2 linked regions of the Homo sapiens genome follow. The protein of the gene in region 2 purifies or fractionates together with the protein of the main gene of each other region. This does not show direct contact. Each region holds a gene or a part of one and is shown on either strand. Other genes may lie near its edges.

Evidence for each region. Proteins that work in one complex are often made in the same cells at the same time.
Region 1: the proteins of MTG2 (region 2) and ATPAF1 purify together in Homo sapiens (affinity purification with mass spectrometry; one large-scale study listed by BioGRID and IntAct). This does not show direct contact.

What each region holds. Positions count from the first base shown.
Region 1 is NC_000001.11:46,658,365-46,661,864, forward strand, and holds part of ATPAF1 (ATP synthase mitochondrial F1 complex assembly factor 1), read right to left. Parts: intron 374-3,500; coding exon 323-373; intron 1-322. UniProt on the Homo sapiens protein: Has a complex stabilizing activity in the assembly of the mitochondrial F1-F0 complex.
Region 2 is NC_000020.11:62,181,759-62,185,827, reverse strand, and holds the start of MTG2 (mitochondrial ribosome-associated GTPase 2), read right to left. Parts: upstream 2,801-4,069; 5' UTR 2,771-2,800; intron 1-2,770. UniProt on the Homo sapiens protein: Plays a role in the regulation of the mitochondrial ribosome assembly and of translational activity. Displays GTPase activity. Involved in the ribosome maturation process.

The sequences.
Region 1 (3,500 bases), on a different chromosome or scaffold from region 2:
AGGTTTTCATAGTTCTGTTCCTGAGGAGTCTCTCTTAGGTTGCCATGTACTTCCCAAAGGCTTCACCCTTACCAATGAGTCCTGCGGCACTTTGCAGCTGGTAAGAGGAGAAAGTTTGGTTGTTATTTTTAATTAAACTGCTATGCTAGGGGTCATGGTCAAGGACACAAAGTTCATAGAAATATTTCTCACTTCTACAGCTGGAAAATCACCTTACACAAAATCACTGAGCCACAGTACTTATGTTCAAATTTGCAGCCTCTTGTTCTAGATGTCCCATATGACTTCAAGCTTTTTTTCCTATATTTAATTAGAAACCTACCTTGTCCTTAGTGAATCCTCTGTTCACAGACTGTTTCCCCAAGGCATCTGTCTGAAATATATAAGACAAGATATTAATCTACACTTTACTCATAAGAAAAAAGGTAACTAAGCTAGGTGAAGTACCCAATCTCATTAAATAATTTTGCATGTGAGAACTCACTTCTCTCCACTTTTTATAATAATTGTTCTAAAATTTTAACACTATTTTAAAAATTATTGTTGGCTGGGCGCAGTGGCTCACACCTGTAATCCCAGCACTTTGGGAAGCCGAGGCGAGAGAATCATAAGGTCAGGAGTTCGAGACCAGCCTGGCCAACATGGTGAAACCCCGTCTCTACTAAAAATACAAAAAATTAGCTGGGCATAGTGGCGGGTGCCTGTGATCCCAGATACTTGGGAGGCTGAGGCAGGAGAACCGCTTGAACCCAGGAGGCGGAGGATGCAGTGAGCCGAGATCACGCCACTGCACTCTAGCCCGGGCAACAGAGTGAGACTCTGTCTCATAAAATAAAATAAATAAATAAAAAGAAATAAAAATAAAAATTATTGTTTATAAGAAAACAACTTTCTTCTAAGATTCTGAGATTCAGAGATAAGATTTCTCTCTCAGTAAACTATCATCTACTAGTACTGAGAGTCCATTCTCCACCTGCCACTGTGGATATGAGGGATTTCTTCCCAGAATTAGGCCTGCTTGGGATTACTGTGCTCTGTCCTGACCTATTCCACACTGAGCCATGGGAGAGGTAAGAAATGGAAAGATGTGTTATCCAAGGATACTGCTTATCTCTGACAACACTTTGATGGTAGGCATCCTCAGCAGACTAGAGTCATTTTGAGTGTTCAATCTTAATGTTTCCTCTATCAAATTAGACACCCTTAAAAAAAGGCCACCAACAACTGAAAGTGATTATTTTGTCTCGTAGCCATTATCTCTCATAAAGGTCATAGCTAGTAAATCCTGTTTTGAGTAGTTTCTGGTAGTAGGGATGGGTTGTTCTGAGTCTTCCACTCAAGGCTGTGCTTCTCAGAAGTACATTCGACACCTGGGATTCTGAGGCTGAAAAACACTTTCTGCATAAAACCTTGCCTTTAGTCACTTTGTGCTTTAATTAATCCACACTTTTCATAAATGATGGTCATAGAACCTGTACCCACAAATTAGAGAAAAGCCTGTTGAACACCCTTTAGTCTTTTTGGTCACGCACCTATACACTGACAACATCCCAGTGTAGCCGTTCCTTCATATGTAAACCATCTAAAAAGGAGTTAATTTCATTTTCTTTCTTTCTTTTTTTTTTTTTTTGAGACAGGGTCTAGCTCTGTTGCCTAGGCTGGAGTGCAGTGGCACAATGTCGGCTCACTGCAACCTCTGCCTCCCAGGTTCAAGTGATTCTCCCACCTCAGTCTCCCGAGTAGCTGGGTCTACAGGCTTGTGCCACCATGCCTGGCTAATTTTTTGTATTTTTAGTAGAGATGGGGTTTCACCATGTTGGCCAGGCTGGTCTTGACTTCTGGCCTCAAGTGATCTGCCCGCTTCGGCCTCCCAAAGTGTTGGGATTACAGGCATGAGCCACTGTGCCTGATGAGAATTTCATTTTCATACCACTCATTCTCAGGTGTACCATGAAAACGAAACAAAAACAAAACAAAACCTCCACTTGCACAGCTGCTTTCACCTTTCAGTCATGAAGCCTCATGTATCGGTTTTTACACAATGTCTCTCCAATCTATTATTTGTATCCATTTTCACTTATAGAAATAAAAAATTTAAGCCCTAAGTATAAGCGTATTGCATTTTATCAAATCTAAGACATCATATCTTAAGATGCACCATTATTTTATGCATCAGAAAATGATGCCAATTAAATAGCACAATATTTTCCTGTCATATCAATTATAAGACAATTTTAGTGATGTTAAAATGAGAAAAATAAGAGTGAGCTTTAGATTTGATGAAATAAGGTAATTAAAGCAGTTGAAACTACATGTCAAAAATCAGAAGCATTTAATAAGAACTTTAAATGGGTATTTTACTTCCCTACTATGGATGCTTTGGAAATCTGTGCAGATAATTTTATGGTTATCATAATAGTTTATTGGATATTGATATCTACATTATGGGAGGGGTGTCAAATGGGTGAGTTCTACATAATAAAAAAAATTTCCCTCATCCTGTACAACTTTTCAATGTCTAGCTAGACATTCTTGCAGCTGAAAATACCTATAATATTTCAATATTTATAATTACTTGGGCCTAGAACCTTTTTTTTTTAAACACTGCTTTAATACTAAAATTTCCAGAAATGCAACTACTATATAACTTGAAAGATTCCACATTGTGGAATCATAGGTCACTGATAACAACACTGCTCATGGTTTTGGAGGTTTTTTTTTTTTTGGAGACAGAGTCTCACTCTGTCGCCCACGCTGGAGTGCAGTGGCACAATCTCCGCTCACTGCAACCTCCGCCTCCCGGGTTCAAGCAATTCTCCTGCCTCAGCCTCCTGAGTAGCTGGGATTACAGGCATGCGCCACCATGCCTGGCTAATTTTTCTTTTGCATTTTAGTAGAGACGGGGTTTCACCGTGTTGCCCAGGCTGGTCTCGAACTCCTGACCTCAAGTGATCTGCCACCTTGGCCTCCCAAAGTACTAGGATTACATGTGTGAGCCACTGCACCCGGTGGTTTTAGAGTTTTTATAATTATCAACATAACACCCATTTGCCAGTCAGTATTTGCTGCTTACATGTTCAAGGTTATTTCAGAAATGGGTGGAAGCACCTCATGACTACATTAGGTCTCACAGTGTAGTCGTGCCCTAATATTTACATGCTAAAATATGTATTTTGTTAAAAAATACTTTTCTTTATATTATGGTTAGGGCATTATATTGATTTTCCCACCTGAGGTTATACATACAGGTAGGTTATATTTTTACATACCTATTGTTTTATTTCAGGGTAGAAAAGGGAGAATTTTTAAAAAATGTATTATAAAAGGGGGATGTTGAGTCCCATGTGGTGGGGAACCAATAACTCAAAGTAGTAAAGACAAGACTGTGGGAATGGAAAATATGTGTTAGCCGTTAGCCTTCCTCTATCTAGCTAGATACAGAAGATAGCAAGTGAATATTTACCTAAGAGCTGCCACAATTTAAATTAAATCTTTACATA
Region 2 (4,069 bases):
GCTGTCCTTGACCTGTCCAGCACAGTCCCCACTGGCCAAATGTGGCCATTTGGCTAAAATTAACTGAAATGTAAAAACTCAGTCCCTGAGGTAACATCTAAGTGCACACAGCCACATGTCACGAGTGGGTACATATGGGACAGCACATATTAGAACACTGCCCTCATCACAGAAAGGTTTTTTTTTGAGACAAGAGTCTCACTCTGTCTCACTCCCAGGCTGGAGTGCAATAGCATGATCTCACCTCACTGCAACCTTCGCCTCCTGGGTTCAAGCAATTCTTGTGCTTCAGCGTTCCAAGAAGCTGGGATTACAGGCACCCATCACCACGCTCAGCTAATTTGTGTACATACATATACATGTATATATATGTATGTGTATATATTTTATTTTTTATTTTTTATTTTTATTTTTTTTGGAGACAGTCTCGCTCTGTCGCCCAGGCTGGAGTGCAGTGGCATGATCTCAGCTCACTGCAACCTCTGCCTCCCGGGTTCAAGGGATTCTCCTGCCTCAACCTCCCGAGTAGCTGGGATTACAGCTGCATGCCACCACGCCCAGCTAATTTTTGTATTTTTAGTAGAGACAGGGTTTCACCATGTTGGCCAGGCTGGTCTTGAACTCCTGATCTCGTGATCCGCCCACCTCAGCCTCCCAAATTGCTGGGATTACAAGCATCAGCCACCACGCCCTGGCCATTTTTTTTCTTTTTTATTTGAGGCAGAGTTTCACTCTTGTAGCCCAGGTTGGAGAGCAATGGTGGGATCTTGGCTCACTGTAACCTCCGCCTCATGGGTTCAAGTGATCCACTCGCCTCAGCCTCCCGAGTACCTGGGATTACATGCACCCACCACCACACCCAGCTCATTTTTGTATTTTTAATAGAGACGGGGTTTCACCGTGTTGGCCAGGCTGGTCTTGAACTCCCGACTTCAGGAAATCCACCTGCCTCGGCCCCCCAAAGTGCTGGGATTACAGGCGCGAGCCACCACACCCAACCAATATATCCACTTTTAAATGTATTCCTAACGATAATACCCTGCGAGGGGTAATACTGCATGCCGAGCTATCTTCCATTTGCTTTTCCAGACCAGCTTTCCACCCTGCCCTGTGCTGTGTGTCAGGAGCCTGAGCTTGCCCCATAGGAAAACCTACTGGGACCTGGCCCTCTACCAGAGACTGGAGGCAGGAGCAGGAGGCCGGGACATGGACCTCCCTGCCCACTCAGACTGAGGCTCACACCTCCAGTCCAAGAAGCCCTCCCCAGTGACTCTTCTCCCTGTCCCGATCACTGCTGCCTTCCCTGATCCTTTGGAGTCCAGGAGTAGAAACTCCACTGCCACCAGTTCCAGGCTAAAGGACCAACTGTCATTAACCTGCACTCTGCCTTTGCAAACGGTCCCTTTATAAACCCTCCTCAAATCCTCCTGTGAGCATGAAACCTGATTTTTTTTTTTTGGGTATGTTTTTGAGACAGAGTCTCGCTCTGTTGCCTAGGCTGGAGCAGAGTGGTGCGGTCTCGGCTCACTGCAACCTCCACCTCCCAGGTTCAAGCGATTCTCCTGCCTCAGCCTCCCCAGTAGCTGGGATTACAGGCGCCTGCCACCACGCCCGGCTACTTTTTTGTATTTTTAGTAGAGATGGGGTTTCACCATGTTGGCCAGGCTGGTCTTTAACTCCTGACCTCGTGATCTGCCCGCCTTGGCCTCCCAAAGTTCTGGGATTACAGGCGTGAGCCACCGCGCCCAGCGGAAACCTGATTCTTGACTTTACATTTTTTATGCCCATCTAAAGCAGTGGAGGCTGAGACTCACAGAGGTTCAGTCACTTGCCCAAAGTCACATAGTATCCTCTGGCCTCCCTGGCATGCTGCTGACACCTGCATTTTACGGCAGGAATCTTCTCACTGAGGTTCGCCTACACAGACTTCCCAAGGGACTAAGGCCAGGATAATTTCAAAGGAATCCATTTTCTGCCCAAGTTTCGCTACGTTCTCTCTGCTAAAACAGAACTGCCTGAGGACGAACCTGCGTTTAAAACAATTTGAATTCTCCTTTCCCGTCCCCCTTTTATAATGGGTCCTCCCCTTTACAAAAGAAAGGTATTTCTCTAGTGACACTGCCCAACAACCCCTCTAATTCCCACCTACAGGTCTGTGTGAACGCCGTTCCTCGGTATCCACAGCTACGAGAACGTAAATGGGAATAGAACGGGTAACCCGCTCTCACTGGGCAGAAGCCAGCCACGGACAGTGAATTATCTGGAAATGCGTCTCCCTGAGGCGCGTTTACAATACAAAACTTTATTGTTGTTTTATCATCCAAATGTGTATATATTTATGTTGTTTTGTGCAACTGTATACTGCCAATAATCACTTTAAAATGTTTAATACTTAGAGCGCTGGATCAAGGCAAATTCCTAACAACTTGACTCGGAACTCACACACGGCACCCATCCCGTGACAGAGCACCACCGGGGTGGCTGACAAGACTTCTGACCCCAAAACGCGGTTCTGCGGAGAGAGTGGGGCAGGACCGGGGAGCAAGGCGCCGCTCCCCACCGCCCGAGCGCTCGCTACTCCAGGGCCGCAGCGCTCGGTCCCGCCGGGGTTCGCAGCCCGGCAGCCCTCCAGGCCTCTCAGCTCCTAGGCCGGGGCCTCTCCCGCTCCCAGCGCCCCGGTACCCCGCGGCCCAAGCCGAGGCCCCTCCTTGCGCCCGGGCCGCGACCACCCCCCAGGCCCACGCTCCCCGCTCCCCGCTCCCGCACTCACCGGCTCGGGAAAGCACGTCACTTCCGGAGCGTCGCAAGCGGCCGACCACTTCCGGGGCCTTTTGGCTCCGGAAGCCCAAGGCTTGCCCAGTGCGCAGGTGCAGAAAACACGCCGACGGACCGAGAGGCGACCTTGTCCCTGGTAGCGGAAGCAGGAGCAACGGCAGGAGGGATGCGGAGCGCTCAGCTGCAGCCGCGCTTCTCGCCGGCGCCCTCGCTGCCCGAGCACAAGGACAGCCGCCCCGCCCGTTCCACCCGGTGCCCAAGGTCCCCCAGCTTCTCTGACCCCTCCGGCGTTTGCGGAACCTCCCGGGTCTGACGAGGACACCGCCGTTGCCCGAGGAGGCTACGGGGCAACGCAGAGCAGGCAGTGGGGACCGCAGGGCAGCCCCGGGGCGCCGTCCCCACCGCCCTTACCCTGGCTTCGCCTTGCCGCCGCGGGGAATCCGGTGCGGACGCACGCGAACTCTGCCCGGGAGCCGAGGTGACGATCTACCTGGTCTCGGTAATAAGTATTTGCAAAACACATCACACCAAAATCCCGTTAACTTCATGAAAACTCACTTTATAGGATGATTTTTGAAGAACCAGTTTATTAAGAGATTACACCAAAAGCATAAACAATTTATACGTCAAACTCCGACTGAAAAAAAAATAACCGATAAGGATGTTTTTTAAATGTACTGTACTCACAAATAACAAGACAAATTTGACCTGTTCAATAAATAGAAATGAAGTGGCTAAAAATGTTTAAATGGAAATGGAAAACAGTCGTCTTCTTTGTACAGTTTTGAAGGGGTGCCCCCTATTCACGCCTACACGTAGAAAAACCCTGACAAAATCAGAGGTTCACTTAACACTCCAACCATATGAGCGTATTAAGGTTTCTTTTCAGATCTTAGGAGATCTTGTCCACCTTAATCCCATTCACAGATCTTAGGAGATCTTGTCCACCTTAATCCCATCATAAAGACTGTTGGCATGAGTTCTGATGTACTGTTTTAATATGCTGAGTACTGTTGATTCAACAACAAACCTTAATGGGTGATGAGCTTTTGCATACCAATATGAATTTGTCAGCACTTCTGAAAACTGGCCATCATTTTTCAAATTCACAATTTGCTGGATGTCAGGGAACAATAGGAAGAAGAATGAGCGTCAATTTTCATGTCTTCCTTTGCTTCTTCACTGGCCTTCCATAGAAGTAGTCAGAAAAAAACAAAGCACCATCAACCACACTTCACAAACAATTCATGTTGGCCTAAGCTTTGCTCAACATTCATATGACAGAAGATAGAAT